2 separate regions of the Homo sapiens genome follow, and region 2 is reported to be linked to region 1. The links are microRNA targets in miRTarBase. Many come from high-throughput screens and were not tested one by one. Region 1 holds a microRNA gene; the other region holds the end of a gene's coding sequence. Distances are from middle to middle.
The links. The annotated mature microRNA hsa-miR-6796-5p reads UUGUGGGGUUGGAGAGCUGGCUG and lies in region 1 at 1,673-1,695, opposite strand. An mRNA with a match to its seed (bases 2 to 7 or 8) in the 3' UTR can be bound and repressed. Matches are read on the target gene's strand: a 7mer-m8 pairs with bases 2 to 8, a 7mer-A1 pairs with bases 2 to 7 and ends in A, and an 8mer does both.

Region 2: miRTarBase lists UBL5 as a target of hsa-miR-6796-5p. Seed matches in the 3' UTR shown: 7mer-m8 at 681-687.

What each region holds. Positions count from the first base shown.
Region 1 is chr19:40,367,159-40,371,545 of GRCh38, reverse strand. MIR6796 (microRNA 6796) reads right to left here and starts at 1,700; the gene lies at 1,639-1,700. It overlaps PLD3 (phospholipase D family member 3), which reads right to left. Exons shown (of 13, transcript NM_012268.4): 6 at 3,667-3,850; 7 at 1,518-1,638; 8 at 1,309-1,436. RefSeq lists a silencer at 3,435-3,600.
Region 2 is chr19:9,829,376-9,833,762 of GRCh38, forward strand. UBL5 (ubiquitin like 5) reads left to right here. Exons shown (of 5, transcript NM_001048241.3): 5 at 590-740. The coding sequence ends at 633. Among named protein-coding and RNA genes, the nearest start is that of PIN1-DT, 3.4 kb to the right of the region's middle.

The sequences.
Region 1 (4,387 bases):
TAAAGTCCTAGAATGATTATCAACTTAAGTTTTGATGAAAATCAGTTATTCCAAAGCTCCAGGTTTCCTGAACGTTTGCAATCTGCTGTTGCTTCTACCCTCCACTGAGCTAGCTTCTACTCATTCTTAGGTCTAGGCTGACATGTTGCCTCCTTCAGGAAGCCTCCCATGACTACCCAGCCTGCACCAGGCATTCCTCTGGGCTCTCACAGTCCCTTGGGATTCCCTCCTCATTCTTTCTGGTGACAAACTGGTCTTCCCATTGGGCTGGGAGGACAGGCACTAGGGATGTCTCAGTCACAGCTATATCTACAGCATCTCCCTGCATAATTGCTGAGATTAAAGGTTAGGGGAACTATCTGTTGAGGAAATGAATTCATGAGTTATTGTCCTGTCTTATCTTCACCTCATTGCCCAAGCTGTTTCCTGTTCCATCTTGCGCTAATTCCTCCCTATCCTTCAGGGATCAGATTAGTTATACCTCCTTTGGGAAACCCTCCAATGCCCCAGGTTGGGGTCTCTGAGCTTCCACAGCCCTCTGTTCCCTCCATCCTGGCCCTGACCCTCTGCCTGTGTCTCCCCAACCCCGGCCCTGACCCCTCTGGGCTGTCACTGTCAGGTGACAGGCCAGTCTGCATTGGGCTGGGAGTTCCATGAGGTCCATCTGTTACCACCATGTTCCCAACATTACCCAGGATAGGGCTGGACTTAGAGCAGGCACACAGAGATGTACAATGAAGATCAAATGGGTGCGCAGGTTCTTGAATGCCATGTAGAGGGGCTGGTAGCTGCAATTGGGGATCAGAGGGAGCCCCAGGCTTCCAGGAGCAGGGGGAGGGCAGTAGAGGGCTCCATTTAGGGATTCTTTGTTTTGTAACAGGGTCTCACTCTGTCACTCAGGCTGGAGTGCAGTGGCATGAATACAACCCACTGTAGCCTCAAACTCCTGGGCTCAAGTGATCCTCCCACCTCAGTCTCCCAAGGAGCTGGGACCAGAGGTGTGTGCCACCACACCGGGCTTATTTTTTTTTTTTTGGTAGAGATGGGGTCTCACTATGTTGCCCAGGCTGGTCTCCAACTCCTGGGCTCAAGCAATCCTCCCACCTTGGCCTCCCAAAGTGTTGAGATTATAGGTGTGAGCCACCGTGCATGGCTTGGATTAGGGAGGCCTGGTAGGAGGCAAGAAGGAAGCCATTACAGAGAATGGGTGGAGAGGACTCTGGATTGAGTGAGGGATGCAGTCGGAGGCTGGGTGCCCTGTGGGGCAGGGAGTGGCCTGGAAGGAAGGTAGACAGGGTGCAGACAGACCTGGGTCAGTGAACGCCAGTCCATGTTGGCACTGCCCAGGTAGAAGTGGGTCTGGTCCACCACCCAGAACTTGGTATGCAGGACGCCATGGGTCAGCTTCTGCATGTCCACCATGCGGACCTGGGCACCTGTGACCAGCAGGGGCAGAGATCAGGGGCCAGGCTGGGTACCCCCAGGCCCAGACCAGCCCCAGTTGGGCCCCAGCTCACCGCTCTGCAGCAGAGCCTGCAGGTCCGCCTGTGGCTGGGGCCCGCTGGGCTTGCTCACAGCGATGCGGACGTTCACGCCCTTTGGTGCCAGGGTCTGCAGCTGCCGGAGGACCTCCTCACCCTGCGGGGAGGGGAGAGCTTCTGAGGGGCTGGACCAGCCAGCTCTCCAACCCCACAAGGTAATGCCCGGTGGAGTTATTTTGAGACATGATTAGGAGTAAACAGACTTTACATTAGCCTGCATAGATTAAAGACTTTACAGATTAAAATATTAAAAGACTTCCTTATCTGTTTTAAACATCTTTATCTGCTTTAATAATTAGTTGCCCTGTGATCCCCCTCCAAGTCCTCCTGACCCCTCCTGCCCCTCCAGGGACTTTCTCAAAATTCAGCATCAAGGCAGGGCCTCCAGGCATCTCCCAGTATGGTGGGGGCGAGGCTCAGGCAGGGGGTCCTGGAAGGTATCGGGTGAGGCACGATGATGCCAACAACAGCAACAGTCAAGGATGCCCTGGAACCTACTGTGTGCCAGGCCCTGTTCTAGGCCTCTTCTCAGCGAACTCACTGAATTCTCACAACCCAGTGAGGCTGGTTTAATTATAATCCCCACAGAGAACTCAGTAGTGGAGTGGGATTTTGTTTTTGTTTTTTTGTTTGTTTGTTTGTTGAGACAGGGACTTGCTATGTTGCCCAGGCTGATCTTCAATCCCTGGGCTCAAGCATTCCGCCTGCCTCAGTCTCCCAAGTAGCTAGTACCTCAGGAGTGCACCACCACATCCAGCTATGGAGCAGGATTTGAACCCAGACCATCTGCCTCCTACATCTGTGTTTTAAACCACTTTAGAGGGAGCCAGCAGGGAGTGGGAGCTCATACGGTTTTTTAACATAAAAAAATTTTTTTTTAGAGACAGGGTTTCACTATGTTGCCCAGGCTAGAGTGCAGTGGCATGATCACAGCTCACTGCAGCCTCCAATTCCTAGGCTCAAGTCATTCTCCTGCTTCAGCCTCCCAAGTAGCTGGGACCACAGGTGTGTACCACTATGCCTGGCTTTGGTTTTTAACTTTTGTAATTATTATTATTACTTTTTCTTTTTCTTTTTTTTGAGACAGGGTCTTGCTATGTTGCCTGGGCTGGAGTGTAGTGGCATGATCACGGCTCGCTGCAGCCTCCAACTCCTGGGCTCAAGCCATCCTCCTCCTTCCATCTCCTGAGTATCTGAGACTGCAGGCATGCACCACAACACCCTCCTAATTTTTTTTTATTTTTAGTAGAGATGGTTGAGGGGAGGTGGGGGGCGGGTCTCACTATGTTGCTCAGGCTAGTCTCGAACTCTTGGGCTCCAGTGATCCTCCTGTCTAGGCCTCCCAAAGTGCTGGGATTACAGGTGTGAATCACCACACTTGGCCATAATTATTTTTTTCAGGCAGTTCTTAAGGAGCCTTGTAATTTTAGTTAAGTTTTAAGACAACTTCTCACAAAAAGAGCCAGTAGGGAGAAGAAAACAGAAGGAACAAATTCATGGTTTTTCAATGGAAGAGGTTATCCATGTAGGCTGTTCCTTTTCAAATTGTGAAGCTTTTATGTTCTTTAAGTTTGTCTGCAGACCATACCAGGATATATAGTAACAGCAGACTCACAAAGGCTGACTCTGTGCCAGGCACTGTGCTAAAATTTGCATGGATTAGTCCATTTCATCCTCACAAGAGCCCTAAGAAGCAGGTGCTATAAATTGGCCCCATTTTACAGATAAAGAAACTGAAGCTGGAGAGAAGAGGTGGCCTGCCTGGGGTCACACAGCTGGGAGGTGGCCCCTGTCTTGAGGCTGGGCTGTTAATTACTCCACTCTTCCCTTTCTTTGTGTGACTGGGTCAGGACAGCTTGTGGGTGAGTGACATCTGCCAGCCTAATAATCCCTTGTAACCAAACCCGCACCCTGACATTCAGAGGCCTACAGATGACCGTGACAAACGCCCCCAGTCCAGAGAGCCACGTGACGACAGCTGCTTGCAAACACCTGTGTCCAATCTGCTGTGTGAGACACACCCCTCTGTCTCCTGGGCTGCAGGAGAAACCCCTTCATTCCCCACAGCCCCCGCTGCCTCCCACCCCCTGCCCCTGCTGCCGGCCAGGGCCAAGGTTGCAGGTACCTGCTGGGCAGAGGGCTCCTGCGTGTGGGTGTCATTGTTGGTGAGGGTCCAGTAGAAGGAGGCGATGTCCAGGCTGCTGTGCGCACCGGCGAGCAGGCCCAGCCAGGCCTGGCTGGTGGAAGGGTTCCCCGTGGAGGCATTGGGGAAGTCCAGGCCCTCAGGAATGCTTTCCACCAGCACTGCTCTGGGGGGTGGGGGATGCTATCAGCCATACGGTGCCGGAGAGCAAGGGCTGGGAGGTGAGTGCTCAGCTGTCCGTCCATGGGTGTGTTGGATAGACTGTATTTTTTTTTTTTTAGAGACAGAGTCTTGCCCTGTCCCCCAGGCTGGAAGCGCAGTGGCGCCATCTCAGCTCACTGCAGCCTCGAACCCCTGGGCTCAAGCGATCCTCCCGCCTCAACCTCTTGAGTAGCTGGGACTACAGGTGTGCACCAGTATGCCTGGTTACTTTTTTTACTTTTAGTAGAGATGGAGCCGCACTACATTGCCCAGGCTGGTCTGGAACTCCTGGGCTCAAGCAATCCTCCCGCCTCAGCCCCGCAAAGTGTTGCAATTACAGGCGTGAGCCACCAAGCCCAGCTAAACTGTATTTGAGTTTTTCTTTTCTTTTAAAAAAAATTTTTTAAAACTGTGTGTATTTGAATGCGTGCCTGGACTCATGATCCTCTGCGTGTCTGTCTAGAGGTGTGGAAGGAAGGTCGTGTATTGAGATGTGTGTGTG
Region 2 (4,387 bases), 31 Mb from region 1:
CCACCATGTATGCCAGGCTAGTCTCAAACTCCTGGCCTCAAGTGATCCTCCCGCCTCGGCCTCCCAAAGTGCTGGGATTATAGCCGTGAGCCACTGTGCCTGGCCTAGAAGGAACAGAAACTTTTTTTTTTTTTTTTGAGATGGAGTTTTGCTCTTGTTGCCCAGGCTGGAGTGCAGTGGTACAATCTTGGCTCACTGCAGCCTCTACCTCCCAGGTTTAAGCGATTTTCCTGTCTCAGCCTTCCAAGTAGCTGGGATTACAGGTGCCCACCACCACACCCAGCTAACTTTTTGTATTTTTAGTAGAGACAGGGTTTCATCGTGTTGGCCAGGCTGGTCTCAAACTCCTGACGTCAAGTGAGCCACCTGCTTCGTCCTCTCAAAGTGCTGGGATTACAGGTGTGAGCCACTGCACCCAGCCAGAAATTCTTTTGTAAAGTTTTGGTTCTCTCCAAATAAAAATGGCCTGGTCCAAAATGGGCTTCCTTAGCCCTGGGCTGAGACCTCAGGCCACCTGACCCGGCTGTGAATGGATGAGAGGGGTGGGGACGGAAGTCAGAGTCAGGATTCCTTAACACCTTTCCTTCAGATGAAATCCACGATGGGATGAACCTGGAGCTTTATTATCAATAGATGAGAATCCTCATCTTCCTGCCCCGCTTTCCTCTCCCATCCTCATCCCCCACACTGGGATAGATGCTTGTTTGTAAAAACTCACCTTAATAAAGACTTAGATGTTGCTTTGTTGTTGTCTCTGTATGACAGCTGTCTAGTGATGGGTGGATCAGTCGCTGTTTGGTCATCACTGCACCATCAGCATGCAGCTGCTAAAATAAGAGCTCTGATCAACTGGATCCATGAGGGCAGAGTAGACCAGCAGGCTGGGAGTCTGTGTGGGAGCCCAGAGAGAGCTCTGGGGTTTGCTGTGGGTGTCTGAAGGTCAAGAGACTCTGGGATTATTGTCACCCTAATAAACCAAAGAACCTCCGGCTAATGACAGTAGATGTAATTGTTAGGAATTCAGATTCTGAAATCACACAGACCATGTGTGGAATGTCAGCTCTGCCACCAAGCAGCTGAGTGACACTAGGCAAAATTTTTTAACCTCTGTAAGCCTTTACTTCCTTATCCACTGGAAATAATTGCGTTTACTTCATGTCTGCTTTCAATCGGCATATTGTGAGGAGGTATAAATGAGTTTAAAGCATGTTTAAACATCCACAGTTCCTGGCATTTTTTTTTTTTCTTTTTTTGAGACAGGATCTTGCTCTGTCACCCAGGCTGGAATGCAGTGGTATGTTCATAGCCCACTGCAGCCCTGAACTGGACTCAACACAGTCCTCCTGCATCAGCCTCCCAAGTAGCTGGGCAGTGTGTACCACCACGCCAGCTAATTTTAAAATTATTATTATTATTTATTTTATTTGAGACAGAGTCTCGCTCTGTCACCCAGGCTGGAGTGCAGTGGCACGATCTCAGCTCACTGCAACCTCTGCCTCCTGGGTTCAAGCAATTCTCCTGCCTCACCTGAGGCAGGAGACTGGGACTACAGGCGTGCCCCATGACACCAGTTAATTTTTGTATTTTTAGTAGAGATGGGGTTTCACCATGTTGGCCAGGCTGGTCTCAAACTGCTGACCTCAAGTGGTCCACCCTCCTCGGCCTCCCAAAGTGCTGGGATTACAGGCGTGAGCCACCGCGTCTGGCATTTTGAAATTTTTTGTACAGACAGGGTCTCCCCTATGTTGCCCAAAATAGTCTTGAACTCCTGACCTCAGGTGATCCTCCAGCCTTGGCCTCCCAAAGTACTGAGATTATAGGCACAAGCCATCATGCCTGGCCCTAGCACTTCTTTTCAAGACAAAACGTGATAGTAGACAGTGAGGCAGTGTGGCACTATAAGTGTGGCTACATGATCCCAGCCTCAAGAGTCAGACCGACTAGATTTGAATTTTGATTGATCCTTAGCAGTGGGATTTCAGCCTCTGCGACCCTCAGTTTCATCCTCTAAAAATGAGCACTACAGTGGCACCCACATCTCAATGAGACCACGCAATTAGAATAGCAGGATGCCTGGCACATAATGTTATTTGCTGTATTCTTCCTCTAGGTGTGAGTAGACAGGAGACCAACTGTCCCTCTGTTCCCCTGGCCACAGTTCTTTGTGTCAACCTTGCTCCTGTCCTGTTTTATTTTTTAAATTAAAAAAATTTTTTTTTTGAGATGGAGTTTCACACTTGTTGCCCAGGCTGGAGTGCAATGGCATGATCTCAGCTCACTGTAAACCCCGCCTCCTGGGTTCATGTGATTTTTTTGCCTCAGCCTCCTGAGTAGCTGGAATTACAGGTGCATGCCACCACACCCAGCTAATTTTTTTTAGTAGAGACAGGGTTTCACCATGTTACCCATGATGGTCTTGATTTCCTGACTTCATGATCCGTTCACCTCAGCTTCCCAAATTGCTGGGATTACAGGTGTCAGCCACTGCGCCCGGCCCTGAATTTCTTATTTCTTATACCACTCCTCCCACCAGTGGTGGGCATTAATACATTTGAGTGACTCTAGAAACTTTCTGGAATAACCTAGAGTTTTTATCATACGGGGATAATTATATGTCCCGTAATATTTATATGACATTCCATAGTTTGCTTTTCTGTGCTTTTTTTTAATTATTATTTTTTATTATTATTTTTTGAGATGGAGTTTTGCTCTTTTTGCCCAGGCTAGAGTGCAATGGTGCAATCTCGGCTCACTGCAACCTCTGCCTCCCGGGTTCAAGCGATTCTCCTGCCTCAGCCTCCCAAGTAGCTGGGACTACAGGCACGAGCCACCACACCTGGCTAATTTTTTGTATTTCCAGCAGAGACAAGGTTTCACCATGTTGGCCAGGCTGGTCTCAAACACCTGAGCTCAAGTGATCCGCCCGCCTCAGCCTCCCAAGGTGCTGGGATTATAGGTGTGAGCCGTTGGGCCAGCCATGATTTAGCAATTTTGAAACTACTTTTGTGTGTGTGGGTGTGGGCACATGGGCCCATGTAATACACACAAACAGGGTTGAACAAATAAGTAAACTTGTAGATAATGAGAGCTGGGTGTCTCACTGTGGAGAAGGAAGTTACAAATAAAACAGGAGATGGGAATGCTTAAAATGAACCTTGTAGGACTGGATTTGGAGGCATCAGTCTGAATTCATGGTTTTCGTTTAACAGATATATTGATACATATAGATGTGTGTATACATATGTATATTTCCTTGCTCTATCCACTTAGAGGGACCAGAAACAGTGACACTCCAGGAACAGTGAGCACCCATCCTGGAACATAAAAACACTAGTGGGAAAACAGGATTGGGGGGAATTTGTGGTTTAGTTAATAGTATTATATTGATATTGGTTTCTTAGTGTTGATAATTATATTATAGCAGGGTTTCTAAGCTTTGGCATTGTTGACTTTTTTGGGTTGGATTTTTTTTTTTTTTTTTTTTTTTTGAGACAGGCTGGAGTGCAGTGGCACGATCTTGGCTCACTGAAAGCTCCACTCCAGGGGTTCAAGCAATTCTCCGCCTCAGCCTCCCGAGTAGCTGGGATTACATGCGCCCGCCACCACACCTAATTTTCGTATTTTTAGTAGAGATGGGTTTTCACCATCTTGGCCAGGCTGGTCTTGAACTCCTGACCTCTTGATCCACCCACCTTGGCCTCCCAAAGTGGTGGGATTACAGGCGTGAGCCACCGCACCCAGCCTTTTATTTTTATTTATTTATTTATTTTTTGAGACAGAGTCTCCCTCTGTCACCCAGGCTAGAGTGCTGTGGCAAGATTATGGCTAATTGCAGCCTCTTAACTCCTAGACTCAAGAGATCCTCCCACCTCAGCCTCCCAAGTAGCTGGGATTACAGGCACGTGCCACCACACCCAGTGAATTATTTTTGTAGAGATAGGGTCTTGCCATGTTGCCCAGGCTGGTCCCCAACTCTGGGCTCAAGCGATCCTCCTGCCTTGGGCTCCCAAAGCCCTGGATTACAGGTGTGAGCCACCACACTCAGCCCTTGGATTGGATAATTCTTTTGGTGGGGGCTGTGCCTTGAAGGATGTTAGCAGCATCCTTGGCATCTAATACTAAATGCCAGTAGCCAGTAGTATCTCCTGTTCCAAAATGTCTGAAGGTGTTGTAACAACCAAAAATGTATCAAGATGTTGCCAAATGTCCCTTGGGAAACAAAATCGCTACTGGTTGAGAATTCTGTTCTATTGTTTATTTAAGACGCTAATATTAGGGAAGTTTGGGTGAAGGGTACATGAAAACCCTACTGTTTTTGTAACTGCCCATGTCTAAAATTATCTTTATAAAAAGTATCTTTTTAATATTATGCTAATACTTGTAAAAA